7 linked regions of the Homo sapiens genome follow. The protein of the gene in region 1 interacts with the protein of each later gene in a pairwise test. Each region holds a gene or a part of one and is shown on either strand. Other genes may lie near its edges. The genes, in order: HMOX2, NUP54, SGPL1, DHX36, FYN, ASGR2 and MRM1.

Region 1 (4,374 bases):
CTATACTTCTGACCTACTAGCTATAAATCGAAAGTTCTGACAATCCCTCCTCGAGTTTGATTAATCTGCTAGAGTGGGTCACAGAACTCAGGAAAACACTTTACTTACATTTACCAATTTACTCTAAAGGATATTAAGAAGGATACAGATGGCTGGGCGTGCTGGTTCATGCCTGTAATCCCAGCACTTTGGGAGGCCAAGGAGGGCAGATCACCTGAGGTCAGGAGTTTGAGACCAGCCTGACCAATGTGGTGAAACCCCATTTCTAGTAAAAATACAAAAAAATTAGCCGGGTGTGGTCGTGCATGCCTGTAGTCCCAGCCACTAGGGAGGCTGAGGCAGGAAAATCGCTTGGACCCTGGGGGCAGATGTTGCAGTGAAATGAGATCACGCCACCGCACTCCATCCAGCCTGGGCGACAGACTGGAAGAAAAAAAAAGGATACAGATGAATAGCCAGATGGAAGAGATGTATAGGGTGAGGCATGTAGGAAGAGGCATGAAGCTTCTACGCCCTCTCTGGAACTTTCGTGTATTCAGCTATCCTGAAGCTAATGCAAACCCTGGTGTGTGTGTGTGTGTGTGTGTGTGTGTGTGTGTGTGTGTGTGTGTGTGTGTGTGTGTGTGTGTTTATGGAGGCTTCATTACAAAGGCATAATTGAATACGTTATTGGCCACTGGTGATCAACTCAACCTTTAGACCTTCTCCCGTCCCCTGAGGTTAAGGGGGTAGGGCTGAAAGTTCCCACCCTCTAATCACATGGTTGGTTCCCCAGGCAATCAGCCCCCATCTAGGAGCCCACCAAGAGTTACTTACTTACAACAAAAGATGCTCCTATTACCCAGGAAATTCCAAGGGATTTAGGAAATTACAAAAGTTTTAGGAGCTCTGTGTCAGGAACTGAGGTTAAAGACCAATATCAGAATGAAGGATTCTCCTAGTGCCCCCATCTACAAAGGTTTTAGGAGCTCTGTGCCAGGAACCTAGGGTGCAGATCAAATATATCTATAAATCTTTTTGTTTGTTTGTGTTTTGAGACAGAGTCTTGCTGCGACACCCAGGCTGGAGTGCAATGGCGCTATCTCGGCTCACTGCAACCTCCGCTTCCCGGATTCAAGCGATTCTCCTGCCTCAGCCTCCCGAGTAGGTGGGACTACAGGTGTGCGCCACTATACCTGGTTAATTTTTGTATTTTTAGTAGAGACGGGGTTTCACCATATTAACCAGGCTGGTCTTGAACTCCTGACCTCAAGTGATCTGCCCACCTCAGCCTCCTGAAGTGCTGGGATTACAGGCATGAGCCGCTGCATCCAGCCTCAAATTTATCTCTGTATCTTCTTCTAAATTACAGTATCACACCCGTGCATATGCCCAAAAATTTTTTTTTTTTTTTTTTTGAGACGGAGTCTTGCTCTGTCGCCCAGGCTGGAGTGCAGTGGTGCGATCTCGGCTCACTGCAGGCTCCGCCTCCCAGGTTCACGCCATTCTCCTGCCTCAGCCTCCCGAGTAGCTGGGACTACAGGCTCCCGCCACCATGCCCGGCTAATTTTTTGTATTTTTAGTAGAGACGGGGTTTCACCGTGTTAGCCAAGATGGTCTCAATCTCCTGACCTCATGATCCACCCACCTTGGCCTCCCAAAGTGCTGGGATTACAGGCGTGAGCCACTGCACCCGGCCTCATATGCCCAAATTTTAAAGGAGGCACCACATTCAAGTCCAAATGCCTAAAGGTAGAAGGATCAAGAAACAGTAGTATGAGGCCATTTGAGAAGTATATATAGTTATCCCTCAGTATCTGTGGAGATTAGTTCCAGGACCCCTCAAGGGTACCAAGATCCAGGATGCTCAAGTTTCTTTTCTTTTCTTTTTTTTTTTTTTTTTTGAGACGGAGTCTTGCACTGTCACCCAGGCTGGAGTGCAGTGGTACGATTTCGGCTCACTGCAATCTCCACCTCCCGGGTTCAAATGATTCTCCTGCCTCAGCCTCCCGAGTAGCTGGGATTACAGGTGTGCACCACCACGCCTGGCTGATTTTTGTATTTTTAGTAGAGGTGAGGTTTCACCATATTGGCCAGGCTGGTCTCGAACTCCTGACTTCAGGTGAGCCGCCTGCCGCGGGCTCCCAAAGTGCTGGTATTACAGGCATGAGCCACTGTGCCCAGCTTAAGTTTCTTATATAAAATGGTGTATAGAATTTGCATATAACCTATGCATATCTTCTGTATTCTTTAAATCATCTGTATTTATAATACCCAATACAGTGCTATGTAAATAGTTGTTATACTGTATCGTTTAGGTAATCATGACAAGAAAAAAAATCTGTACATGTGTAGTACATATGTAGCCATCTGTTGTTTTTTTTTTCCCTGAAGATTGATTGGTTGATTGAGACGGCATCTCACTCTGTCACCGAGGCTGGAGTGCAGTGGCGCAGTCTTGGCTCACTGCAACCTCCACCTCCTGGGTTCAAGCGATTCTCTTGCCTTAGCCTCCCGAGTAGCTGGGATTACAGGTGCCTGCCACAACCCCCGGCTAATTTTTATATTTTTAGCAGATTCCGGGTTTCACCATGTTGGCCAGGCTGATCTCGAACTCCTGACCTTAAGTGATTCACCCACCTCCACGTCCCAAAGTGCTATGATTACAGGGGTGAGCCACCATGTCAGGCCTTTTTCTGAATATTTTTAATCTGAGGTTGGTTGAATCCACTGATGCAGAGCCCATGGATATGGAGGGCTGACTGTACTGTATTGAGCTTCTAAGGTATGCAGAGTATTGGCACTGAGGGGATGTGCAAATACAACAACAAACCAAGCATAGTCTTTGTTTACTAGGAGCTGGTAGTAACTGTGGGAAGACACAAAACAGTAAAATCACTTTGTAAGGTTTATGAGAGTTTTGAGAGGCCAGGGAAGTTAAAGAGTGGAGAAATGGAGAAAATGGGAGAACTTGTACTGAACCCATTAGGACAGAGGAGGAAGGGAAGAGAAGGAAGGAGGCCAAAGAAAGAAGAAACCCTTCTTAGAGCACTCAGGGTCTTACTGAAAACTTTACCCATAAAAAGAGAATGTCACTGATAGACTCCTTTTAGAACAGGGATTGATTTTTTTGTTTTTGTTTTTGTTTTTATTTTTGTTTTTGTTTTTGAGAGAAGTCTCGCTCTTGTCCCCCAGGCTTGAGTGCAATGGCTTGATCTCGGCTCACTGCAACCTCTGCCTCCCGGGTTCAAACAATTCTCCTACCTCTGCCTCCCAGGTAGCTGGGATTAAGGCACCTGCCACCACGCCCGGCTAATTTTTGCATTTTTAGTAGAGACAAGGTTTCACCATGTTGGCCAGGCTGGTCTCGAACTCCTGACCTCAGGTGATCCACCCACCTCAGCCTCCCAAAGTGCTGGGATTACAGGCTTGAGCCACCATGCCTGGCCACAGGCAACATTTTTAAACCATACGATTGTCCTGGAGAGAGAATCTGAAGCCTTGCTCTGATTCTGAAAGGGATTTGCAACCAAAAAAGGATAAGGATTGTTCTGACAAGTACCCTTTCTTCCCATCTTCAAAAGTACACATCTCTTAATTTGTGTCTTCAAACACAAATTGTGTTCAAAAAAGGAAGTATTTGAGTAGATTAAAGACAGAAACCCTAGGACATTCCTTTGTAAACAAACAGCCTTTTACCAAACACCAACTGTCAAGGGACTTGCCTGAGTACTTGTCCAAAGGACAGCGTGTCCCCATGTGTAGGCAGTGGTCTAATCTGGTTCCTAGGAGAGGACTGCTGAGGCCACAGCAACTTAACTGGCTAGTGTGGGTGAGGCAGAAGTGTTTGAAGCTCAAGGTCTGTCAAGGACAGCTGATTAGAGTATGTCTGTCCCTAATACAGGGTTAGAGCTCAGTACCAATGCTGGGGATGAGGTGAGTTGAAGACACAGAAACTACATGGTTTTTTGGAAGGTCACGAACTTTTCAAGGAACTAGTGGGCAACTGGAAATGATATGTGAAAGAGTAGAGGGAGCTCTGGCCTAGCTGCCAGAAAACTCTGGGCAGGTCAGGTCTGGGAACAGTGGCTAATCCAGGCCCAGCTTCCCACTGTTGATTTGGACATACAGGCCTAAGATAAGAGACCGTGCCCAGAGCCACTGGTCACTTAGCACAGGTAGTGGGAAATGGTAGCCAGCAAATGTTTAATTGAATATCTTATGTCTCCTAGACCACAGCTGAGCAAACTAGGCCAAGCTCAAGGTCCTGAGGGGAATGAGGAGCTGAGCTCAGTCCCTTTTGGCCCCCTTTCTCTTTCCCTCCTCATTTTAAGTATGGAAGCTCACTTATTTCCTTTTTGTATTGGCCATTTGTGTAGGGTTTTGTTTGAAAAA
Region 2 (4,374 bases), on another chromosome or scaffold:
CCAAGGAGTTAGGATTTAAAAAAAATTTGATCTTTACTTTATAAAATTACCATTTTGAATGCATGGGCTTTAATAAATATGTTTCAGTTGTTGCATTTGGCCAGTGGGAGACCTTAACTTCTGTGACACTCCAGTCTAGTTTTTTCCTACCTCATTGTTAGTCCTCCTTATTGCTTTTGTCCACTCATCTTCCTCTCTCTGTCTCTACAGAGATGTTACACATACTGTTGGCCTTTACCTCTACCCCATGGCTTAGCTGACTCCTTCCTTTAGGCCCTAACTGAAGTGCTAATGGAACTGTCTTCTCTTGACCCCTCTCTCAGGCTTGATCAGCTCCCTTATTTAGTACTCCCAGAACCTCTGTACTTCTCTGAAGGACTTATCACAATTGTTAATATTTGTTTGATGTGTTCAGTTTGTTTAATGCACCTTGTCTACCTTGTTTACCACTGTATCTTTAGTATTTGGCTCTGAGCACTTAGTAGGTACTCAGTAAATATTTGTTGTATGAATTAATGGTGAATGAATGAATGAATGTGTTTATAAAAAACCAAGAGAGACTGTGTTGTCAGGAAATTTAAGGGAGAAGGGCTTTCAAGGAGGATGTGTATTCAACAGAAGGTGAAGATTTTCTTTGGGGGCCAAAGGAATAATCAACAGCATGGGAGGCTGACTGCATATGTCTCGGTATAGAGATCACAGTTGATTCATCTCATGTAAAAGTTGAGGAAGATAAAGCCCAGGAATTTCTTGCTCAAGGATAGAAAGCGACCTTATAATAAACCAGGATTCAAGTGTTCTGAGTTCTAGTCCAGTTCTTGCCAATGTTTATATATACTAATTTGGGAATTAATACTTTTCTGGAGAGTAAAAGAGCCTCTCTCTAGCTCTGTAGAAGCTCCATGGACCTTGTGGTACTTTCAATGTTTAGAGCTGAAAGAGAACTTAAACAATATCTAATACAGTGTTTTAAAACTCAGGTCATTTTGGTATTCACGTTTTCTCCTCATCTACATACCATTTGTATTACTATTTAAGAATTTTCTTTAAATCAGTTTACTTTGAAACACGAAATACAGTTATTTTAAAGTAAAATTTATTGCTGCTATAAGTGGAAAATTAGTATCATTTGCTCTAAGGAAAAGGTAATTGAAATTAAGTACAAAGAAAATATAGTGTAAATAAATTCTAGGTAGATAACTTTGCCTTAAGCTCTGAGCCTTAGACTTGCTCCTCGCTTTGTTGAAAGATGACATACTTATCTCACACTTTGGGGCATATTTATCTGCCCTAAGAACTTGGCCCTTCTTTCCATTAGAGAAATTGGTATCCCAGAGAGGTTGATTTGCCCAAAGTTACACAGCCATCTAAAGTTTTAGCCTAGAATACTGATGGTTAATCCATTTGTTATTACTATATATATTTTTTAATAATGAGAGAAAGGAAAATGTTTAGTAAGCTGGTATTTGATATAACAATGATTTTTAGACTTTGTATCCCCCAATTTGTATTTATTATATAAATATAACAGCAATAAAGGTTATTTTAAAAAATCCTACATCTTTACAAACTTTTTTTTATCCACATGCATCCCTTCCTCCCTCCCTCCATTCTTTCATGTGTAGGTTTAATATTGTGGACCCAATCTGTGTTCTGGTAATGGAATTAATTTGGATAACATCATTAGGGCTGGGCACAGTTGCTCATGCCTATAATCCCAGCACTTTGGGAAGCTGAGGCAGGAGAGTCGCTTGAGCTCAGAAGTTTTGAGACCAGCATGGGAAACATAGTAAGACCCTGTCTCTACAAAAAATAATTTTAAAAAATTAACCAGGTGCACATTGGTGCACTCCTGTAGTCCCAGCGACTCAGGATGATGAAGCAGGGGTATTGCTTGAGCCCAGAAGGTTGAGGCTGCAGTGAGCCATGATCTTGCCACTGCACTCCAGTCTAGGCAACAAAGTAAGACCCTGTCTCAAAAAAATATTATTAGAAAAACAAATTTAACGTTATAAGGTTTGGCCTAGTGTGTTAGTTTCCTATTGCTGCCATACCAAATTACCACAAACTTAGTGGCTTAAGACAATAAAATTTTATTATTTTATAGTTTCTGGAGATTAGAAGTCCAGAAGTGGGTTTCACTGTGCTAAAATGAAGGTCCTGGCAGTACTGCGTTACTTCTAGAGGCACTAAGGGAGAATCCATTCTCTTGCATTTTCCAGTTTTTAGAGTCTTCCTGCATTTCTTGGCTCGCGGCTCTTCCATCTTGCCATATGCCAACAGCATAGCATCTTCAGATCTGTTTGACTCTGAGCGCACTCTTCCACTTTTGAGGATCTTATGATTACGTTGAGTCCCTCCTGATAATCCAGGATAACCCTCTATCTCAGCATGCTTAATTTAATCACATCTACAAAGGCCCTTTTGCTATGTAAGATAACATATTTATAGGTTCTGTAGATTAGGATATGGGCATCTTGGAGGGGGCCATTATTTTGCCTACCACGCCTAGGATCTGGATTAAGTTTTGTTTTGTTTTGTTTTTAAATACTAATTTTGGGTACATTTTTAGCATTAGGTGGTCTCTTCAGTCAGCCTACACAAGCTCCTACCCAGTCCAACCAGCTGATAAATACTGCGAGTGCTCTTTCTGCTCCAACGCTGTTGGGAGATGAGAGAGATGCTATTTTGGCAAAATGGAATCAACTGCAGGCCTTTTGGGGAACAGGAAAAGGGTATTTCAACAATAATATTCCGCCAGTGGAATTCACACAAGAAAATCCCTTTTGCCGATTTAAGGTATTATTAATACTATTTTTATCTTCAGTTGAAGATTTTGTATAACAGAAAATATATTTAGATTAATATCAAGATAACAATTGCTTGGATCTTTACTCCTTGAACATGGTATGATTATACTTTTATTTTGAAAATATAGAAATTATAAAATTGAAGTGATTTCATACATATGTGTGGTTGAAGGTGACCAGAATATGAATGAAGGAAGGTGTGACTGGAATGTGATTTATAACTGAAGAAAAAAAATGTAAACAGGAGAATGGTTTGCCTGGCACCTGTAAAGGGGAGACACCAAACTACAATTTAGTGGTATTCATTTAACATTGGCCAGGAGAGTATACCCTAACCAGCAGACAGAAATTCCCCTTGGCATGTATAACCCCAAAGCTATTAAAACAATATTGCCCATTTTCTGTGTTCTTATTCCCTGCCTACCAAACAACCTTCTCATTTGTCTCTTCAGAAAATCTCTTTATCAGCCAGTGAGAGTATTTAGGTCCATTTGGTAATGCATTTTCCATAACAAATTACGTATTGCAATCCAGTTTATACCTCAGCCTCTTAGGAGTTATATTGGCCTACGTTGGTCTCTTAAACCTAATCAATATGTACATAACCCTGTGTTTGGAGCTGTAAGGCTGAGGATCAGATCCTTGAATAAAGTGGTCAGCCTGTCTTATTACAGAACATCTCTTTGTGTCATCACTAACAAAAAGTATATTGAGTGCATATAGTTGAAATTTTGATACATGTATTTAGTCGCTAAGAGGTATTCAATAATAGACATAAGTTGAATATAACAATAAAGTTGGTGTATAACATGGTAAAATGCATAATGTACACTTGAGTTAATTTAAATTCTTTTTTAAAAGTTGCAGGTGAGTGGTGAAAAGGGATAAAAGGCTTCTATCTAAAAGAGCAATTATTTAGAAAAGTATAATTGGTCATATTAATATGTAAAAAAACAACAACCCTGTTTCATAAAGTTTTGTATTATATAAACCAATAAAGTGATACAGACATTCTTTATAGTATTTGTAAGTTGACTGTCATTACTGTGATTTAAAAGTATTTATTTGTAAATTACTTCTTTATATATTTAAAACTTAGTTTAAGATTCCATGAATCAGATATACAGATACTCCTCAACTTATTATGGGTTACATCCCAATAAACCCATCATAATTGAAAATATTGTAATTCAGAAATGCATTTAATACACCTAACCTACCAAGCATCATAGCCTAGCCTAGCCTACTTTAAACATGCTCAGAACACTTACATTAGTGTACAATTGGGCAGAATAATCTAACATCAAGTCCATCTTATAATAATAATAATTTTATAATAAAAACTAAAAGATCAGAATTCCATGTATGGTTTACATGTATGTATATATGAATGCGTATTGCTTTCACACCCTATAAAATGGAAAAATCATAAGTTGAGAATCTGTATAGTGAAATAAATTATAATTAGTTGGTGATTTTTGCAGTCACTTTTATAATGACATGCAGATGGTTCAGAAACAACCAACAATAATGAATATCAAAATTTTTTAGGGGAGAAAGCTGT
Region 3 (4,374 bases), on another chromosome or scaffold:
TTCTCTGGCTGCTCTCAAACACCAGTTAGATGTGTGTTAGCCTTCTCATCCTATCCTTTGCATCTCTTAGCCTCTCTTTCATACCTTCTATTTCTTTGTCTCTCTGGACTGCATTCTGGTTAACTTTTTTTTTTTAATCTGTCTTGTTCCATAAATGTGATTTTGGAACTATGTAATTATTTTACCTAGTTTTAAATGAACCAGGGCTCCTTGGATAAATGGCTGATTGAAGGCCTGGAGCAGGAAATGGACAAAGTGAACCTGAACCTGGAATATTTCGTCAAAAAAAAAAAAAAAAGGAAAGAAAGAGAAAAAAGGCTTTCAAAGATTACTTGGGTCATGTAAATGGACCTAGGAGCCAATATGATGTTTCCACTGGCCAAAGATGGATGAGGCAATTTGTACATCAATCTGAATAAGAGCTACAATGGATTGAGGCACACACAGCATTCCACAATTTATTCATCTGTGTCCTGTGGATAGGCATTTGAATTACTTCCAGTTTTTAGCTATCATGAATAACATTGCTATGAATATTAATGTCCATATATCCTGATATATATGTGTACTAATTTTTCTAGAGTATGTCCTAGTAGCAGAATTTCTGGGTCATAAGATATATGTATCTTCAAATTTACCAGATAAGGCCAAACTGTTCTGTGGCTATTCACTCTGGCCTCTTACAAGTTCTTCAAGAGTCTAATGGCATAGGAGAATATACTGTAAGTACATTATCATCTTCCCTCTGAAAGTCACCCTGTTCACCTCAGTACTCTAAGGGAAACTGCTGCTGTATTATGGGTGGTTCTGTTTTTAACAGTTTCAGTATTTTGCTTTGAAAATGAATGCCAGGCATATCACCTTTATTACTACTAATATTTGAACATGATGATTTTCATGGCGCCAACATATTAGAAAAACAAAACAAAAACAATGCTTCCTGGAAAAAAAAAAAGAAACTAAATTAGGTGCTCTTCGAATGGGCCCTTCAATAATTAAATCTGCAGTCTTTATAATGACTGCAAATATGATGAGTATCTGATAGGATTAGCACCTCTAGGACACCATTGCAGCATATTGAGTTAAATCTATCTATCCTACATAACCTGAGATTTCGTTTTTTCTAAAGACAACAGATCTAAACAGAAGTTTATCTATCATAGTTTACGAAAACTAACAACCATCTACTTGAAAGAACAGGTAAAACAAAGAATCCTCATGTGTTTCTTTAAATATAATGATGTCCTCCCCCTTTCTTTATGCCTAATAGCAACTAAATGAGGTTCAGTTTACAGCAAAATAATAAATTAAACTTTGGCTCAGGTAAAACCAGAAGTACACTAAAAACACTGCTGGATGGAACAACAAAAGTATACACAGATAAATAGGGGAATGGTAGGTATGCAGGTGGGGGATGAGGGAAGAAGCGGGTAGGGAGGGAAAGAGTGTAGAGAGCAGATATGGCAACATATTTACATTTAGTGAATCTAAGGTGTTCTTTAAGCCATCCTAGCAACTCAATGTAGGTTCAAAGTTTTTCAAAATAAAAAGGTGAAAATAAAAATATCTAGAAGAATATATACCAAAATGTTGACATTGTCTAGGTTACAAAATTACAAGTAACATTTAAAACTGCAGTTAATTAGGATCTTTCTACAATGATCAAATATTCCTTGTGTAGTAAAATGACCTTTCTACAATGATCAAATATTTCTTGTGTAGTAAAATATTTTTAATATTTTTTATTTTTTAAAATATAATTAATATTTATTAAAAACTCTTCTATTTTAACCTAAAAAATAAGGCTATTGGATGCCCCTTGCATATACTTACACATCCACACGAATCTGGTCCCCCATTGAACAGGGAACAAGCTATCCTCACGATTTCTGCCTCTATCTTGCGTAGTCCTGGGAAGATATCTGGATGCAGGGGGTTACTCCATGCAAAATCTCCATAAGCCTGCAAAAAAATGCAAGCAGATGTGAAATCAAAACTATTACACTATACAGGACAAAGAATCATGCACTAAACAACAGTTTCTAAGTATTAGGCACAACAATATAAACTGGAAAAAAAGATAAGATATATTCCTCAACCAAAAGATCAAAACATAGCAGAGGAGACAGACATGTAAATAAATAATTTTACAATGTGATGAGGAAAGAAGTATAAATATGGTTAAAAGCGCAGACTATAACACCAAACCGACCCAGGAGGAAGTCTAAGCTTTGCCTATTACTTTCAGCTGTGTAGGTCACATAATCTAAGGTTGTTTCTTCATACGCAGAAGTTGTTATGGTAGCTATCTTCTAGTGTTCTAGCAATAATTAAATAACATAATGCATGTGAAGCACTTAGTAGAGTGTCTGGCACAAAGCAGCTGTTGTTATCGACTGCAATATCAGGTGTGTGTACAGAGTGCTAAGGGACCCTGAAGAGGGAACAACTAACATCCTGAGTGATCTAGAGGTGTCTGCTGAGTGGAACTTTGAGAGATGAGTAGGAATCATCATTTGGAACAAGAGGAATGATGGAAGGGAAGGAAAACAACGTAAAAGCATGACACATTTAGTAAAGAGAAAAGGCAGGATTAGTGTTTATGTGGGAAATGAAGAGAAGTAGTTAAGAAAAAATAAGTGGGAGCTGGCTCATGAAGAAACTTGTATTCTCTGCTGCATAAGAACCTGAGTTTCATCCTGTAGATAATGGGAAGCTACTGAAAGATTTTAAGCACAGAAGATCAGAGCATTACACCAACTTATGCAAAACCTGCCATATTTATTTAGTAAGGGACAGTTTCATATTTATAATAATCAAACACAAAGACCTTAGAGATCATCAGTACAACCCCAATTTTATATGATGAAGTGGAGTTTCAAAAATAAATATGAGGGCCGAGTGCAGTGGTTCACAGCTGTAATCTCAACACTTTCAGAGGCCAAGGCAGGAGGATCACTTGAGGCTGGGAGTTGAAGACCAACCTGGGCAACAGAGTGAGACCCCATCTCCAACAAAAAAATACAAAAATTAGCTGGGTGTCATGATGCACGCCTGTAGTCCCAACTACTCAGGAGGCTGAGGTGGGAGGATCACTTGAGCCAAAGAGGTCAAGGCTGAAGTGAGCCATGATTACACCACTCCACTCCAGCCTGTGTGACAGAGTGAGACTTTGTCTGTAAAAATAATAAAATAAAATAAAAATAAATTTGATTAGAAATGGAAGAAGCTAAGAATGAGAATTATTTGAAGTATACATGAGACCACTGCTCATCTTGGGTCACATGATTTGAGAAAATTATGAAAGAGTTTCCCTATCTTATCTCTTCTTATCAAACAAAATCTGTCTCACCACAAAAATCTCATCTGACAGGACTACCTTCCCTAGTAATCTGCCTTCTAGACAGGACATCTGCAAAGACTGAAAACATAAATAACATTTTACTATTTTACAGACTGAAGATGTCTTTGATAATATTATACATATTCGCCTATGTTTGGGTGAAGAGAAACTTTTATGGTTTTATTGTACCAATAAGCTTTCCTTAAGTAATTTTTCTAATTACAAAAGTAAGGGAAAAAAAGGAGGTCATGTAAACTGGCACAGACCTCACAGGCTTCCCTCAAGAACTGGACACTCACCTTCACAAGGAGCTCAGTGAGCTTCTCCTCCCCACTGTACACTGTTCCAGAGGCTCTCCCCTCTTGCCAGAAGGCGTCTGCAGAGAAAGGTAAGGTCACTGGTCAGTAAGCAAGAATCTCTGGGAAGACAGGTTCTGATAAAGAAGAAACAGGAAGAAACTCCTCTGGATACAAAAGAAAAAAATGTTGAGTGGAAACCCAACAGCATTCTTATAGCAAATCAAGAAAAAAGTTCAATAGAGTTAGCACAATAAAATAAAGATGAAAAATCATTATTATCAGCAATGTGAAAAAGATATTAATAGCATTTAGCTACAATAAAGGCAATCTGATAATAATGTTGTCCTCATCCTCAACTGCCTTCTAACAGCAGGAACATTTGCCTTTGTCTATACTTATTTTTTGTTCTCTATATGGCTTTGGAGTGGCCTTTTTCTGCAATAGCTTCCTTCTTCTCTCCTTTCCTATCCAGTCCTAGGAATTTTGAGAACTATTATGAGCAGAGTTGGCAGAAGAAAGCAAAATGAAAAGTGTGAAATTTCAGCACACTATCATCAGAGATGAAACCAGCAAACAAACCACAATGAGGTATAAACCATGAGCACCCCGGTCTCAGACGCCGGCTCCCTTAAGCCAAGCCTGGAAACCCACATAAAACTAGTTACCTGCTTCCAGCAGCACACGCTGTAGCATATTCAAGATCAGGAACACAGTCAACATTGGGATAAACCT
Region 4 (3,500 bases), on another chromosome or scaffold:
GCCAGAAATTTTTTTGTATGTGTGTACCTAACTTTACAGGTAGCTTAACAGTGAGTCACTTTGAAATTCATTTTATTTTCCTCTCTGCCATCCTGGGAGGGCTTTCTGAAAAAATGTAGTTTTCTTTGGACTGGTGCATTGTTTTGGTCCAGACTAGGGGTCAGCAAATTTTGACCTATAGGCCAAAAACTTGTTTTTGTCCTTTTTTTGTTGGAACACAAACATGTTGTTTTCATGTTGTCTATTCTGCTTTCCTTCTACACTAGCAGAGTTGGACAGAAATTATAGAGCCCCAAATATAGACCCTAAAATATTTACTCTCTGGTCCTGTATAGAAATTTGCTGGGCCAGGCACAGTGGCTCACACCTGTAATCCTAGCACTTTGGTTGGCTGAGGCTGTTAGATTACTTGAGCCCAGGAGGTGGAGGTTGCAGTGAGTCAAGATCACACCACTGCACGTTGAGAGATCATGCTACTGCAGTCCAGCCTGGGTGACAGAACGAGACCCTGTCTCAAAAAAAAGAAAAAAGAAATTTGTGAAGTTCTACTGCTCTAGTTATGCAGGGTGGCAGGATGGCATTGGTAAATTGACTTGAAGTGAGAAAAAATAATTTCTGGTTTTATTCTAAGTATTTAAAACTGTAAATTCATAACCATGATTCATGATTTTGATTACAAGTCTTATGAATTCTTAGAACTTCAGAAGTGGCCGGGTGTGGTGGCTCACACCTGTAATCCTGGCACTTTGGGAGGCCAAGGTAGGCGGACCACCTGAGGTCAGAAGTTTGAGACCAGCCTGGCCATCGTGGTGAAACCCCATCTCTACTAAGAATACAAAAACTAATTGGGTATGGTGGTGGCACATGCCTGTAATCCCAGCTACCCAGGAGGCTGAGGCAGGAGAATCGCCGGAACCCGGGAGGCGGAGGCTGCAGTGAGCTGAGATTGGGCCACTGCACTCCAGTCTGGGTGACAGAGCAAGACTCCGTCTCAAAAAAAAAAAAAAAAACTTCGAAAGAGACACTCGTAAAAACAAATAGGAAAGATTAGTGGATTATTAGCTTTTATGCTGTTAGTTAATACAGGTAATTAACATTAACTATTTAAAAATAAATTATTAAACATCTCCCTGTTGAATAATACTAAAGACTTTTACAAATTGAGATAAAATGTGTATGACTATCAAAAAAAAAATGACCTAGGAATTGAGAGATTGAATTAGAACTGTCAACATGAATTTAAACAGAATTCTTAACTTTTCATTTTTTATTCATCTGGGTCATACTCTGTAAAATTTTTAAGTTGATAATTTTACAGTTATTTTGTAAATCAAGGGCTGTTTATCAGTATTATGATTGTCATAGTAAAATGTATAAACTCTTGGTATGAATCACTTAATTATTTTAGGTACTTTTTTGTTATTTATTCTTCAGTGGTATAGTGTGCATTAACATTAAGGAAAAGAATATTCTGCCATTTTTCTAAAATGTTGAGTAATTATACCTGCAAGAAGAAGATTAGTTACATGATTTAAATTATTCATACTGATAGCATTTTTTCATATATTTTTAAGGAAATTATGCTCTGTCCTCAAATATAAATATATTTTTTTGCAAAAATAAACTGAATTATTCTCTGGAATTTTTTTAGATTCCGGGATTTGTTTGGTTTTTACCAAGCTCTTCTATCAGTTTTTCAAGTAGTGTAAAAAAAGAAAATCCTCTAGAAGACTTCTTTTTAACAAACTGCATTTTAACTTTTTTTAAAGGGTAAAAGTTTACACAAAAACCGATGGCCTGGTTGCTGTTCATCCTAAATCTGTTAATGTGGAGCAAACAGACTTTCACTACAACTGGCTTATCTATCACCTAAAGATGAGAACAAGCAGTGTAAGTGAACATTTAAAATAATTAAGGATCTGATTATCAGTCTCATTGTATTTTTATGATTGTGTAGTTTTAACAATTATATACAAAATTTTTTTTTTGTTGTGTCTTATTCCTGTGACGTGAGTAACTTTTTCCCTCTAACAAATAACCTATTCTTTTAATTTTCAGGTCTGTAATGATGGATCTTTGTATTTTAATTAGTTAGGACAGTTATTTGATTGCATAATTTTCTTTCAGAACTTGCTTTCAAGAAATATTGGCATATTTTATGGTGTACAGGAGTTTACATTGTATAGAAAGTTTTGTTAGCATGTCAGTATACCTTATAAGTATTGTTCAGCATGTTGAGATTCTGTTTATTTATATTTTTCTCTTTAGAACAGTAATTTGAGATGATTTATAAAAAACTGGATAAAAATAACTTCGGCAACATTAGTGTTTTGCTTTTGTCACTCAGAAAATATTTTGTTCAGAGTAGTGCTTAGTTTAAACTAAAAAATATTAAAATACCTATGTTCTCTGAATAATGAAGATGGCTCATTTAAAATGGTATTTCTTACAAATCTCTGTAATTACAATAGAAGGTTAATATTTTAGAAGGAAGATACTCATTAATTAATACTGGTAATATTGTTGAATTTATATAGTAATCTTTTCAGACTCCTGAATGTATTAATTCACTTTAATTTTCATTACAGATATACTTGTATGACTGCACAGAGGTTTCCCCATACTGTCTCTTGTTTTTTGGAGGTGACATTTCCATCCAGAAGGATAACGATCAGGAAACTATTGCTGTAGATGAGTGGATTGTATTTCAGTCTCCAGCAAGAATTGCCCATCTTGTTAAGGTGACTGACTTTATGTGATTATCTTAAATCTACATGTAAGTCAGCATGTGGTCATGTGGTTTTGTTCTAACTGTTAAATAGATTAACATTTCTTGCTCTATTTCAGCAGAGCAAATAATTTTGAAAAAATGATTCCTGGTTTTTCTGAATTGTGTTTTGAGGTGGTAACAGACCAGCCATTCTAAATGGCTCAGTGTGATTGCAGTGTGAATTTTAACTGCACTTTAGTTATTCACTCATAACCACACTTTAGTTGATTGCTCACTAAATGTTTTAGCTTTTGAGCCATCGCTTGTGAAACTCCTTGTATCAGGTAAATTAGTTTCATTTATTATGTTATTTGGTAATATATCTGCCTTTGTTGAACATGTATAATTTTTCCAACCTTAGGAATTAAGAAAGGAACTAGATATTCTTCTGCAAGAGAAGATTGAAAGTCCTCATCCTGTAGACTGGAATGACACTAAATCCAGAGACTGTGCAGTACTGTCAGCTATTATAGACTTGATCAAAACACAGGAAAAGGCAACTCCCAGGAACTTTCCGCCACGATTCCAGGATGGATATTACAGCTGACAGCTTTTCAGGGGTGGTCTGAAAAGCCAGTTTGACAGCCATTCTTCATCATTGTTTAAATTTTGGCTGGATGCCAAACCCTGGGACATGAACAATTTTCATGTGTAAGGTAGAAGCCTTCAGTAGGTAGTAAAGACTTAATGTGCATGACTTGATGTTATATGTAGAGATATATATATATAT
Region 5 (4,374 bases), on another chromosome or scaffold:
ATGAAAGGAGACCATGTCAAACATTATAAAATTCGCAAACTTGACAATGGTGGATACTACATTACCACCCGGGCCCAGTTTGAAACACTTCAGCAGCTTGTACAACATTACTCAGGTAACCTTAATTCTAACTACCTACTAACCATTTGGATGCTGGAGGGAGTGGATAGGCCCAGAGCAGGAAAGTGGAAAGGGGTAAAACTAATATGTACAAAATCACTTATAGAGTATGTTTTCTTTGCCAGCCCTTAATGGTAGGGCTTGGCTGTATAGGTTCTATTGCTATTGTTCTACTGTTGTTATTATTAGTTCCACATGTTTGTCCGAAGATTCTATAATATTTTTGTTTCCCAAGTAGAAAGCAATAGGTTAAATTTTAAAAGTTGTTTGTTTTTTCATCTTCAAGTTGTCTTTTCCCATTCCCCGCGTTGCATGTGAGAAAGCAGTCTCTCGGAGGGCGCTTACATGGGGACTCCTACAAGGAATATTGTGTTTCCACTATCACTTTACCCTCAGCACTGTTGCAGGAATAGCTGCACGTACATTTCATTCTCATGCAAGCCATTTATCATGTTCCCCACCAATACTGCTGTTTCCTAACTAGGCTTAGACTTACACAACCCACAGCTCTTAGATCTATTATGTCTATTGTGTTAAATTAAACTTTTATAATGTACATCAGTTTCTGTCCTAACACCCAGATATCACCATTATTTTGTTCTTTCTGAAAACATATAATTATTAGATATGCAGTTTATACATTTTATCAAAGACTGGTTTTATGTGCAATTGTTAAAATGATTGCTTTCTTTCCTAGATTAGCAAGTATTATATGCCACTATATAATACATGTTCACATGTGCCTATAGATATAGGTGCACATGTATAGACACATGTCTATATCCTATTAAGCCTAGAGATATTTTTTTGTGTGACCCATTTCTCCATTTTCTATTGTTCTCCAGGACAAAGGCAAGACTCAAAAATAGTATATGATTTACCTCTACTATTGCTCTGTGCACAATCATTGAAATATGTATGTATAATTTTTGGCATGAAAAAGCAATCTTTCGAAAATGACAATAAGAAATGTCTGTTGATCCCTTGCACTAATGAACAATAGAAAATATTAACAGCACTTGCAGTACTAGTTGATTATGGCATTGGCTAACTCGGTTTATGTGGATTCTAATGAAACATTTGGGAGAAATGGAACAAAATATCTCCCTGAGCTTAAGTGATATACTCAAAATGCCTGCATGTTGTAAGGATTTTTCAAATGCTGAAATATATTTCATTACAGCCAAACATCAGCAGGATCCCCAGGGTTTGGATCATTTGAAAATACTGTGTTCGAAAGGGCACCTTAATAACATTGTAAAGCTGGAAGGAAAGAGGGGATATGAACAATAGACACTTTTTTTAATCTCGGGGAAAAAAAATCCATCTCACGTTAGACTTGTTTTTATATTGGCTTTCCCTCTTCCCTCTTTCTCTCTCACACAATAAAATGCCTTTGAAATGCTGACACATAAATAATTTCCTACCTAAACATCTCAGAGCCTGATTCCATCAAAAAGAAAGGAGTAAAAAGCAAGTTACAGCCCAGCAGCACATCTGCTTTCCCTGGGTCCGGGGGCTGCCAGGAGGGAGCGGGAGGTCTGTCCACCTCACAAGGCAGGCTCTGTCAGCTTTTGTCACTCCCTGATTTCTTATTCTTTGTTACCTTTTTTCGCCTGACTGATTTTTACTTGGCATTTAAGTTCCCCTTAGCACTGCCAGATTCTAAAAGGTTATATTCTTTTTAAAAAAGAAGAGAAAGAAAGAAGGAAAGAAGACAAAGAAAGAATAAAAACCTCCGAGTGTTAACTACTTTTTCCTTTCTTCTTTTTTTTATAAAGAATACATTCTTTCACATCTTGAATTTCTGTGAATTTTAGTTTCCATTCTTTCTCCTTTCAAACCAGACACCTAAATTATACGTCGAAGACTGTTAAAAAGTTGTTTTTTTTTTTTTAATGGAAAATATCCAAGAAGCAGCCCAGGAGTATCTGACATGGTGGAATGGAATCAGTTAGAAAGCGAAGAAATCACTAAAAAAAGTTACTTCTTTTTTTCCCCACCAGTTATAATCTTCAACCTTACTAGTTTATAACAGTTTAATGTCCTATAGAAGGATCCTCCACTAAAGTTATAATTTTAAGTATAGTCATATAGAGAGATCCCTAATCCCCTGGGTAATCTAGATACTAAAGGTGGGGAAGAACAGTCATATTGACATTCTTTAATCCAAAACCACTGTTTGAAATTAGTAAGGATATTTTCAGCATTCCCAAAAACATGTTATTAGCACGTTGAGCTGAAAACGTTTTTCTTCCTCAGTGAGTACAGAAACCAAAGCAGTCTGCGTGTATGTCTATGTATAGACTGTATCGTACCTGGGCTCATGGAGTAGTCTAAATTTAAAACGTCCTCTCTTCTACCTCCAATGAAAATGTTTCCGTGTGTGGCGTCTGATCTTCCACCGTGTGTGTGGTCGTCTGCTGGTGTAGCGCTGTTTAAGGAGCGCTGTGTGCTGCTAGTGTTCCACGATGTGTGTGGTCGTCTGCTGGTGTAGTAGCACTGTTTGAGGAGCACTGTGCGCCGCTAGTGTGGGTTTACACTTATGAGTGTTGTCATTACATGTGTTCTGCTCTTCTCTCCCTCTCCTGCCCCTGCCCTGCTCCATCAGAGAGAGCTGCAGGTCTCTGCTGCCGCCTAGTAGTTCCCTGTCACAAAGGGATGCCAAGGCTTACCGATCTGTCTGTCAAAACCAAAGATGTCTGGGAAATCCCTCGAGAATCCCTGCAGTTGATCAAGAGACTGGGAAATGGGCAGTTTGGGGAAGTATGGATGGGTATGCTGAGACTCAATTACTCTCTTATTAGCTTCCCCGTTTGGAAGATCCCAAACACCAAAGATGGAAGGTGAAAATAAAGACTGCGTGACCGGGAAGAAAGTTTGAATTACTAATAGTGGGGAATAATAATTTCAGTTTTGGTTTTAACATTCTGGAATTCCTAAAAAAAAAAAAAAAAAAAAAAAAAGATAGTAAGTGGGCAAAATTGGCAAATGGCTCAAGTTGTACTATTACATGACTCTCAATTCATAAACCAGCAAATGGTCCAAGGAATGTTCCAGCTGCCATAAAATATCTTGCTCTTCATTTCCAAAAGCAAATATTTGTTGAGTGTCATCCTAACGGGCAAGTCACCTTCCATCTTTCCTAGTGCATGCATAATTATGGATTATAAGGACTGTGTTTTCTTTATTAATTCCCTTTCCTGTAGAGAAAGCTGATGGTTTGTGTTTTAACTTAACTGTGATTGCATCGAGTTGTACCCCACAAACTTCTGGATTGGCTAAAGATGCTTGGGAAGTTGCACGTCGTTCGTTGTGTCTGGAGAAGAAGCTGGGTCAGGGGTGTTTCGCTGAAGTGTGGCTTGGTAAGGCAGAGGGCACATTTTGTTTTGGCTGCATCTCAAAGCCGATTAAAAGGATGGTTTTGAACAAAAATGCACACACAGCCGTTGGGACAAAGACACTTAACCTGGATAACTAGACGGGCACAGGCCATCCAGATTTTCAGAATATGCTGATACCTTGCTGTGCTCATCTGTCCTACTTCATGTGGTTAATTAAGGCACCCGCAGAACAGGAAACCAGTACACTATGAATCTGGTGTTTCCTCTTCCTAAGAAATGGGAAGGTAAGATACTGTATATGGGCAGCCATAAGAAAGACCATGGACGTTTTGCTCAATGGGCCTGGGTTTGAATCCTTACTAGCTAATTAACCACGAACAAGGGGCATATTTAACTCCTTTAAGCCTCAGTTTTTTCATCTGTAAAATTGGAATGATACCTTTTTGTTGTTGTTGAGACGGAGTCTTGCTCTATCACTAGGCTGGAGTGCAATGGCGCGATATTGGCTCACTGCAACCTCCACCTCCCAGGTTCGAGTGATTCTCCTGCCTCAGCCTCCCGAGTAGCTGGGATTACAGGTGCCTGCCACCACGCCCAGCTAATTTTTGTATTTTTAGTAGAGACGGAGTTTCACCATGTTGGCCAGAATGGTCTCGATCTCCTGACCTGGTGGTCTGCCAGCTTCATCCTCCCAAAGTGCTGGGATTACAGGCGTGAGCCACCACGCCCGGCTGGAATGATACTTATTTAAAGGATTATTTTTAGGATTACATGGGTTAATATGTTTAAAGTCCCTTGCAGATAGTAGATATTCAGTAGAGATACATACTTCTCTTTATTTGATTGTCATTGATAAGGCTGGCTGCACTGGGCCTTTGTAATTTCTTTTATAGCCCTTTTGGGTCAGTTA
Region 6 (4,374 bases), on another chromosome or scaffold:
TTTTTAATTCTTTTTTCTCCCAGTGTTTCATTTTATAGAGTTATTGCTGTTCATTAAGTTAACTAAAATTTTCCCCTTCCCCTCCCCCTCCCCTCCCCTCCTTTCCTTCCCTCGCTTCCCCTCCCCTCTCTCTCTCTCATCTCACTCTGTTGCCCAGGCTGGAATGCAGTAGCTTGTCACAACTCACTGTGGCCTCCACCTCCTGGGCTCAGGCGATCCTTCCACTTCAGCCTCCCAGGTAGCTGGGACTATAGGCATGTGGCACCACACCTGGCTAATTAAAAATTTTTTTTTGTAGAGACGGTTTTGCCATGTAGAGGGGTTTTGCCATGCTGCCCAGACTAGTCTTGAGCTCCTGGGCTCAAGTGATTCCCCCCGTGTCGACCTCCCAAAGTGCTGGGATTACAGATGTGATCCACAGTGCCTGGCCCTAAATTTTTCTTACGCATTTCTCATCTTCCATTATTTCCATCCAGTGTGTTTTTTCTTTTCTTTCTTTTCTTTTTTTTTTTTTTGGAGGCGGAGTCTCGCTCTGTTGCCCAGGCCGGAGTGCAGTGGCGCGATCTTGGCTCACTGCAAGCTCTGCCTCCCGGGTTCATGCCATTCTCCTGCCTCAGCCTCCCGAGTAGCTGGGACTACAGGCGCCTGCCACCACGTCTGGCTAATTTTTTGTATTTTTAGTAGAGATGGGGTTTCACCATGTTAGCCAGGATGGTGTCGATCTCCTGACCTCATGATCTGCCCGCCTTGGCCTCCCACAGTGCTGGGATTCCAGGCGTGAGCCACGGCGCCTGGCCAGTGTGTTTTTTCATTTCAGACATTGTAGTTTTTATCTCTAGAAGTTCACCTGGGGACTCTTAAATATCCTCCACAATTCTACTTAATTTTTTGAACATAATGGGATATGGCTATAATATCTGTTTTACCATCCTTGCCTGCTAATTCTAGCATCCGTGTCAGTTCTGGATCTCTTTTGATATTTATGAACCTCCTCGTTATGCATTGTGTTTTCCCGTTTCATTGCATGCCTTGTAATCTTTGATTGGCTGCCAGACATTGTCAATTTCACCTTGTTGGGTGCTGGATATTTTTGTATTCCTCTAAATGTTCTTGAGCTTTGCTCCGGGATGCAGTTAAGCAACTTAGAGTCAGTTTGATCGTTTGAACTCTTAATTGTTTTGGTCTCCTCGGACTCTCAGCTCCATCTCCTCAACGTGGGGAGTCTCTTGGGCTCTGCCTGGACTTCCCTTTCCTGGCCTGTAACCTGCAGACTCTCTCCAAACAGTAAGCTGGGGTGATCGGAGGGTTCCTGTTGTTTGCTTCTTATCCCTCAGGGATCTTTACTCCTCCTTGCCTGATGTCCAGAGTCTTGAAAGCTGCCATGTTCTATAGTTGTCTGTTTTTGTTTTGATTGTTTCTGGGGAGAGAAGAACTCTTCCCATCTTGGGCAGACCCTGTCTTTTATGTTCAAACTTTTGCCTAAGAAGCACATTACATATTTTAACTCATCTAATTATCCGAGCAATCCAATCGGGTAGCTACGACTGTGATCTCCATTTTACACACGAGAAAATGGAAGCATGGAGAAATTGAATGCTGGTGCATGATCTCAGAGCTACCTGGAGGCACAGCTGGGCTACCCTGTGGGCAGTCTGGTTTCAGGGTGGATATACAGACACGTTGCTGGGCTGACCCAGCATTGGGAGTTGATAAGTCGGACTGGGAAGCAGGACAGGACCCTCTGAGTGGAGGGTGCTGAAGACAGCAGTCAGGGACTCAGCCATGGAGGGCCAGCTTGGTGGGGAACACCGTGGTCATGGAGCGCTTCTGGATGGAGAGGAATGCAAAGGCCTTGGAGGAAGGGGTGGGGGCAGTGAGAGGGAGGGTGGGGCTGTGCTCAGAGCGGGAGTGGGCAGTGGAGGTGTCAGAGGCCTCCCTGGGTCAAATGGGGTCCTGAGTGTGGCTGCAGTGGGGAAGGTGGAAGTCACTGGTGTGAAAAAGATGAAGAGTTATGGACAGTCACTTACAGGGGCAGTGTCTGACTCAGGACAGTGGCAGGAAGTGACCTGGGGAGGAAGATTCTGGGCCCCTGACTGAGCCTCCCCAGGATGTGGTCCTGCTGGGTCGGGGGGTGATAGGAATGAGAAGACAAGGAAGTCCACAGAGTCAGGGTCCAAGGCCTAGAAGGTGTTCTGTTTGCAGGTGGATGCTGCAAAGAGAGGAGCTCAGGGCTGGGACAACTGGAGCTGCTCTGGGTCTGGAGGCAGCAGAGAGGGAGCCCAGCTCTGTGTGCAGGAAGACGTGGGTGTGTGAGTGTACGTGTGTGGGTGTGTCAGGTGTGTGTGTGTGGGAGGGAGTATGAATGTGTGCATTAGCATGCATATGCACATGTGAGAGTGGGTACAGCAGAGCGTGGTCATGAGTGTGTGCAAATGTGTGTTTTTGAGTGAAGTGAGCAATGTGTGAGTGTGTGAGTGTGTGTGAGTTTGTGAGGGCATGTGAATGTGTGTGTCAGTGCTGTCAGGGTGCAGATGGATCAAGGGGCAGGAGAGGTACCTGTGAGATGACCTCGGGCTGAGGGGAGCAAATTTAGTGTGGAACGAGGTTTCTAGGGAAGCGAGGGCAAAGGGCGCTGGGGAGGAGGCCTTGCGTGGTGGGGGATGAGGACAACAGGTGGGACCTGGAGGGTTGTGCTTGGAGAGTGGGCTATGGTGGAATGACCCAGATTTAAGGATCTCAATGGAATTTTGGCAGGGGAGGGACTGTTCCAGTATGGATTTTAGGAAGAACACAGGGCCCAGCTTCTGGAGTCTCCAATCTGAGGGGACAGGAGCCTTAGAAGAGCTGAGACTAAGGCCCGAGGTGATCTGGAGGCCTCTGCCACTGGCTGGATGGGAGGAAAACCATTCACAGATCCCCCTTCTCAGGATGTGTGCCTAGGCAGGGCCGGGTCTGCCCCCCCGCCCCCTGTGCGTCTCCCAGTCCCCCAGCTCCAGGATCCGGGCTTTGCACACAGCTGATGTGAATATCCTGAGTCGTGTGCATGGGTGTGTGTGCACCAGATTAGCTGCGTGTGTATATTTATACATGGTAATATGGGTGCGAGTGTGTAAGAGTGTGTGTGTAATGCTCAAATGCTGGGGTCAAAGCCTATGATGACCCCCCCCCATGGCCCCAACCAATCCCCCCGCCCAGGTTATGCCTCCTCAGGCTTCGGTGCCCTGTCTTTACCCTCCGGCTCCCCACACCCAGGCTGCCGGCTCCTGATGCCCCTCTCCCACAGGGCCACCTCCTGCCCAGCCCCTGGCACAGCGTCTCTGCTCCATGGTCTGCTTCAGTCTGCTTGCCCTGAGCTTCAACATCCTGCTGCTGGTGGTCATCTGTGTGACTGGGTCCCAAAGTGAGGGTCACGGGGGCCAGCAGGGATGGGCAAGGGGTAGGGAAAGAGACATGGGCAGTGGCGGGCAGCGATCGGGGCGATGGGAGGGGAAGGGATGGAGGCGGGGTGGAGCACAAGCTGGGGCAAATGCGGGGACATTGAGGGGCCAGTCACATGGACAGTGATGGGGACACGGCCCCTCTGCCTCATCCTGCCCCCACTACCACCTGACAAGGTGCACAGCTGCAAGCCGAGCTGCGGAGCCTGAAGGAAGCTTTCAGCAACTTCTCCTCGAGCACCCTGACGGAGGTCCAGGCAATCAGCACCCACGGTGAGGGGCTGGACGGCTGGGTTCTCATTTATCCGCACAGGTTTGCTGGGCTCAGTGCCGAGTCTGCAACAGGGCTGTGTGGGGTGCCGTGGGGGTGCAGGCTGGGCAAGGCGTCCAGGGGCCCTGGGGGATGTATAGGAGGGAGGCAGGTGGGGACGGACGAGGTTAGTGCCAGGTGGAGAGGTTGGATCTGCGACACCCGGAGGTGAGGAAGGCACCATGTCTTGGGCCTGTGAGCAAATCGAGTGTGGCAGGCCCATCGGAGGGGCAGGCAGGTAAGGGGTGGCCAGAGAGAGGTGGGGAGGGGCCCGGCCACGCAGGTGAGCCGTGCTGACAGAGCGAGGCTTTATTTTGAGAAAATGGGGACCCATTGAAGGGACTGAAGCAGGAGAGTGGCCTGAGCCACTGTGGCAGTGCAGGGAGCCTGGGTGTGGTCCAGGAAGCCAGGAGGTGGACGCCTGCATCGCCCAGGACGAGGCGCTGGCCCCCGGTCCCCCAGCAGCATGAGGACGGAGGGAGGCTCAGCGGGGAAACAGCTGGCTTTCCGCTTCCAGGAGGCAGCGTGGGTGACAAGATCACATCCCTAGGAGCCAAGCTGGAGAAACAGCAGCAGGACCTGAAAGCAGGTCAGAGAGCCTCCGGGGTGTGTGCGCATGTGCGTGCA
Region 7 (3,315 bases), on another chromosome or scaffold:
GGGCCTGTGCTGGGGCCCCATCCCTTCCTGCGTACTCAGAGACACTGCTGTAGCAATTTTCCTCCTCTTCCTGCAGCATCCACTTTTCTCTTACACTCTCTTCAGCATGCAAGCAAACATTCCCCTCTCACGCTCTTGATCTCACACCAGTCAGCTCTTCCTCTCACACTGAATCAAAGGCTTCATCAAGGTCACCAGTGGCCTCCATGTTGCTGCATTCCAGGGTCTGTTCTCAATTCTTTTCTGACTTGACCCATCTGCAGCAGCTGGCACAGTTGACCACTCCTTCCTCCTTGAAACACTATACCTGCTTTCCTTCTGCTTCACCATGTCCTCTCTGAGAGACATTTTTAGTGGTTCTTCCTCAACCCCCTGACTTCCGAGCATTAGCATTTCCCAGATTTTAGTCCTCGGATCTCTTTTGTTGTTGTTGTTAAGAGATGGGGTCAGCTGGGCACAATGGCTCACGCATGTAATCCCAGCACTTTGGGAGGCTGAGGCAGGCAGATCATGAGGTCAGGAGATCAAGACCATCCTGGCTAACACGGTGAAACACCATCTCTACTAAAAATACAAAAAATTAGCTGGGTGTGGTGGTTCGTGCCTGTAGTCCCAGCTACTCGGGAGGCGGAGGTAGGAGAATCGCTTGAACCCGGGAGGTGGAGGTGGTAGTGAGCCGAGATTGTGCCACTGCACTCCAGCCTGAGTGACAGAGTGACGTGTCAAAAAAAAAAAAGAGATGAGGTCTTGGCCGGGAGCGGTTGTTAAGAGATGGGGTCTTGGCCAGGCACGGTGGCTCACGCCTATAATCCTAGAACTTTGGGAGGCTGAGGCAGGTGGATCACCTGAGGTCAGGAGTTCGAGACCAACCTGGCCAAAATGGTGAAACCCTGTCTCTACTAAAAATACAAAAATTACCTGGGCATGGTGGCGGGCACTTGTAATCCCAGCTGCTCGGGAGGCTGAGGCAGAAGAGTTGCTTGAATCCAGGAGGCGGAGGTTGCAGTGAGCCGAGATCACAGCGTTGCACTCCAGCCTGGGCAATAAGAGTGAAACTCTATCTCAAAAAAAAAAAAAAGAGAGAGAGAGAGAGAGAGAGATGGGGTCTTGCTGTGTTGCCCAGCCTGGAGTCCAGTGGCACAATCACAGCTCAGTATAGCCTCCGAATTCCTGGGCTCAAGCCATCCTCCCACCTCAGCCTCCTGAGTAGTTGGAGATACAGGTGCACACCATCTCACCTAATTTTTTTCTTTCTTTTTTCTTTTTCTTTTTTTTTTTGTAGAGATGAGGTCTCACTTTGTTGCCCAGGCTGGTCTCAAACTCCTGGCTTCAAGAAGTCCTCCTGCCTTAGCCTCCCAAAATGCTGGGATTACAGGCGTGAGCCACCTCACCTGGTCCTGGATCTCTTTTCTGTATATGTTCATTTCTTGTTGGTCTCATCTAGTCTCATGGCTTTAAATACTATCTGAATTCAAATTCCCGCCCAAGTGTATACTCCAGCCTGGACCTTGGTTCTGAATTCCAGATTCACTCATCTAGTTGCCTACTGCACAGTTGTTGTTATTGTTGTTGTTGTTTTGCTGTCAGGCGGGCATTTCAAACCTAACATTTCTAAAACTGAGCGCTTGTTCCTTCTGGAGCAACTCCATCCCTTTGGTTGTTTAGGTCAAAAACCTTGGCATCATCCTTAACTAAAGTTATTTCCGTATTATCACCATTTCTGCCTGTTTCCACTGCTACCACTCTGGCCCAAGCAAGTCACCATCATCTGTTGACCGTTATTGCAGAAACTTCCCACCTGGCCTCCTTTCTTCTGCTCTTGGCTCTCAGCACAGCAGGCAGAGTGATTCTGTTGAAGTCATACCATGTTACTTCTCTGCTCAAAACCTTTCAAAGCCTCTGTACCGCTCAGATTCAAAGGCAGAGTCCTTCCAGTAGCCCTGGAGACCATACCTCATGTGGCTCTTGTTCCTTCTTCTGTCTTGACGCCTCTCTTCCCACTGGCCACCTTACTGTTCTCAAACATGCCAGGGAGGCACCTGCCTCTGTGCTTGCTGATCTCTCTGCCTAGAATGTTCTTGCCCCAGATGTCTGCACGGTGCTCCTCCTTCTCCTTCAGGTCTGCACTCAAATGTCACCTCAGTGAGTCCATCCCCACCTGCCCTTCCACAAGGCTGGGATTTTGGTCTGTTTTGTTTTGTTCAGTGCCCTGTCCTCAGTGCCTAGAACAGAGCCCATGCTAGGTGCTTAATAACTATTGACTAATTGACTGGATCAGCAGATAAATGAATGTATGGGCAAGGCTGGGCTCTTCCTTGGCCAGGGCTCTGATGGATAATTTTTTTTTTTTTTTTTGAGATGGGGGTCTCACTCTGTCACCCAAGCAGGAGTGCAGTGGCGCAATCTTAGCTCGCTGCAATGTCTGCCTCCTGGTCTCAAGAGATCCTCGTGTCTCCTGAGTAGCTGGGATTACAGGCTGATTTTTGTATTTTTAGTAGAGACAGAGTTTCACCATGATGCTCAGGCTAGTCTTTTTTTTTTTTTTGAGACAGAGTGGAGTCTCGCTTTGTTGCCCAGGCTGGAGGCAGTGGTGTGCTCTCAGCTCACTGCAACCTCCGCCTCCCGGGTTCAAGCGATTCTCCTCCCTCAGACTCCCAAATAGCTGGGACTACAGGCATGTGCCACCACACCCAGCTAATTTTTTGTGTGTTTTTAGTAGAGACGGAGTTTCACCATGTTAGCCAGGGTGGTCTCAAACTCCTGACCTCAGGTGATCCGCCCGCCTCGGCCTCCCAAAGTGCTGGGATTACAGGCGTGAGCTACTGCGCCTGGTTTTTTGTTTTTTTTTTTAATTTGAGATGGAGTTTCACTCTTGCTGCCCAGGCTGGAGTACAATGGCGCAATCTCGGTTGACTGCAGCCTCTGCCTCCCGAGTTCAAGCGATTCTCCTGCCTCAGCCTCCTGAGTAGCTGGGATTACAGGCATGCACCACCATGCCCGGCTAATTTTGTATTTTTAGTAGAGACGGGGTTTCTCCATGTTGTTCAGACTGGTCTCGAACTCCCAACCTCAGGTGATCCCCCTGCCTTGGCCTCCCAAAGTGCTGGGGATTACAGGCGTGAGCCACCGTGCCTGGGCCAGGCTAGTTTTGAACTCCTGACCTCAGGTAATCTGCCTGCTTCAGCCTCCCAAAGTGCTGGAATTACAGGCTTGAGCCACTGCATACAGCCTCTGATGAAGATTTGATGAATTAGAATAGGAGAGGCAGGCATGGTGGCTGACGCTTGTAATCCTAGCACTCTGGGAGGCCAAGGT

Evidence for each region.
Region 2: the proteins of HMOX2 (region 1) and NUP54 interact in binary tests that used the Homo sapiens proteins (3 or more experiments, as listed by UniProt).
Region 3: the proteins of HMOX2 (region 1) and SGPL1 interact in binary tests that used the Homo sapiens proteins (3 or more experiments, as listed by UniProt).
Region 4: the proteins of HMOX2 (region 1) and DHX36 interact in binary tests that used the Homo sapiens proteins (3 or more experiments, as listed by UniProt).
Region 5: the proteins of HMOX2 (region 1) and FYN interact in binary tests that used the Homo sapiens proteins (3 or more experiments, as listed by UniProt).
Region 6: the proteins of HMOX2 (region 1) and ASGR2 interact in binary tests that used the Homo sapiens proteins (3 or more experiments, as listed by UniProt).
Region 7: the proteins of HMOX2 (region 1) and MRM1 interact in binary tests that used the Homo sapiens proteins (3 or more experiments, as listed by UniProt).

Annotation. Positions count from the first base shown.
Region 1 is NC_000016.10:4,482,596-4,486,969, forward strand, and holds part of HMOX2 (heme oxygenase 2), read left to right. Parts: intron 1-1,041; exon of another isoform or gene 1,042-1,159; intron 1,160-4,374.
Region 2 is NC_000004.12:76,134,611-76,138,984, reverse strand, and holds part of NUP54 (nucleoporin p54), read left to right. Parts: intron 1-2,572; coding exon 2,573-2,799; intron 2,800-4,374. UniProt on the Homo sapiens protein: Component of the nuclear pore complex, a complex required for the trafficking across the nuclear membrane.
Region 3 is NC_000010.11:70,856,959-70,861,332, reverse strand, and holds part of SGPL1 (sphingosine-1-phosphate lyase 1), read right to left. Parts: intron 3,720-4,374; coding exon 3,643-3,719; intron 1,963-3,642; coding exon 1,834-1,962; intron 1-1,833. UniProt on the Homo sapiens protein: Cleaves phosphorylated sphingoid bases (PSBs), such as sphingosine-1-phosphate, into fatty aldehydes and phosphoethanolamine. Elevates stress-induced ceramide production and apoptosis.
Region 4 is NC_000003.12:154,275,988-154,279,487, reverse strand, and holds part of DHX36 (ATP-dependent DNA/RNA helicase DHX36), read left to right. Parts: intron 1-1,769; coding exon 1,770-1,890; intron 1,891-2,588; coding exon 2,589-2,741; intron 2,742-3,131; coding exon 3,132-3,317; 3' UTR 3,318-3,500.
Region 5 is NC_000006.12:111,698,626-111,702,999, reverse strand, and holds part of FYN (tyrosine-protein kinase Fyn), read left to right. Parts: coding exon 1-115; intron 116-2,731; coding exon 2,732-2,896; intron 2,897-3,329; coding exon of another isoform or gene 3,330-3,485; intron 3,486-4,374. UniProt on the Homo sapiens protein: Non-receptor tyrosine-protein kinase that plays a role in many biological processes including regulation of cell growth and survival, cell adhesion, integrin-mediated signaling, cytoskeletal remodeling, cell motility, immune response and axon guidance.
Region 6 is NC_000017.11:7,107,798-7,112,171, reverse strand, and holds part of ASGR2 (asialoglycoprotein receptor 2), read left to right. Parts: intron 1-3,283; coding exon 3,284-3,400; coding exon of another isoform or gene 3,401-3,436; intron 3,437-3,614; coding exon 3,615-3,710; intron 3,711-4,264; coding exon 4,265-4,336; intron 4,337-4,374. UniProt on the Homo sapiens protein: Mediates the endocytosis of plasma glycoproteins to which the terminal sialic acid residue on their complex carbohydrate moieties has been removed. The receptor recognizes terminal galactose and N-acetylgalactosamine units.
Region 7 is NC_000017.11:36,604,077-36,607,391, forward strand, and holds part of MRM1 (rRNA methyltransferase 1, mitochondrial precursor), read left to right. Parts: intron 1-3,315. UniProt on the Homo sapiens protein: S-adenosyl-L-methionine-dependent 2'-O-ribose methyltransferase that catalyzes the formation of 2'-O-methylguanosine at position 1145 (Gm1145) in the 16S mitochondrial large subunit ribosomal RNA (mtLSU rRNA), a universally conserved modification in the peptidyl transferase domain of the mtLSU rRNA.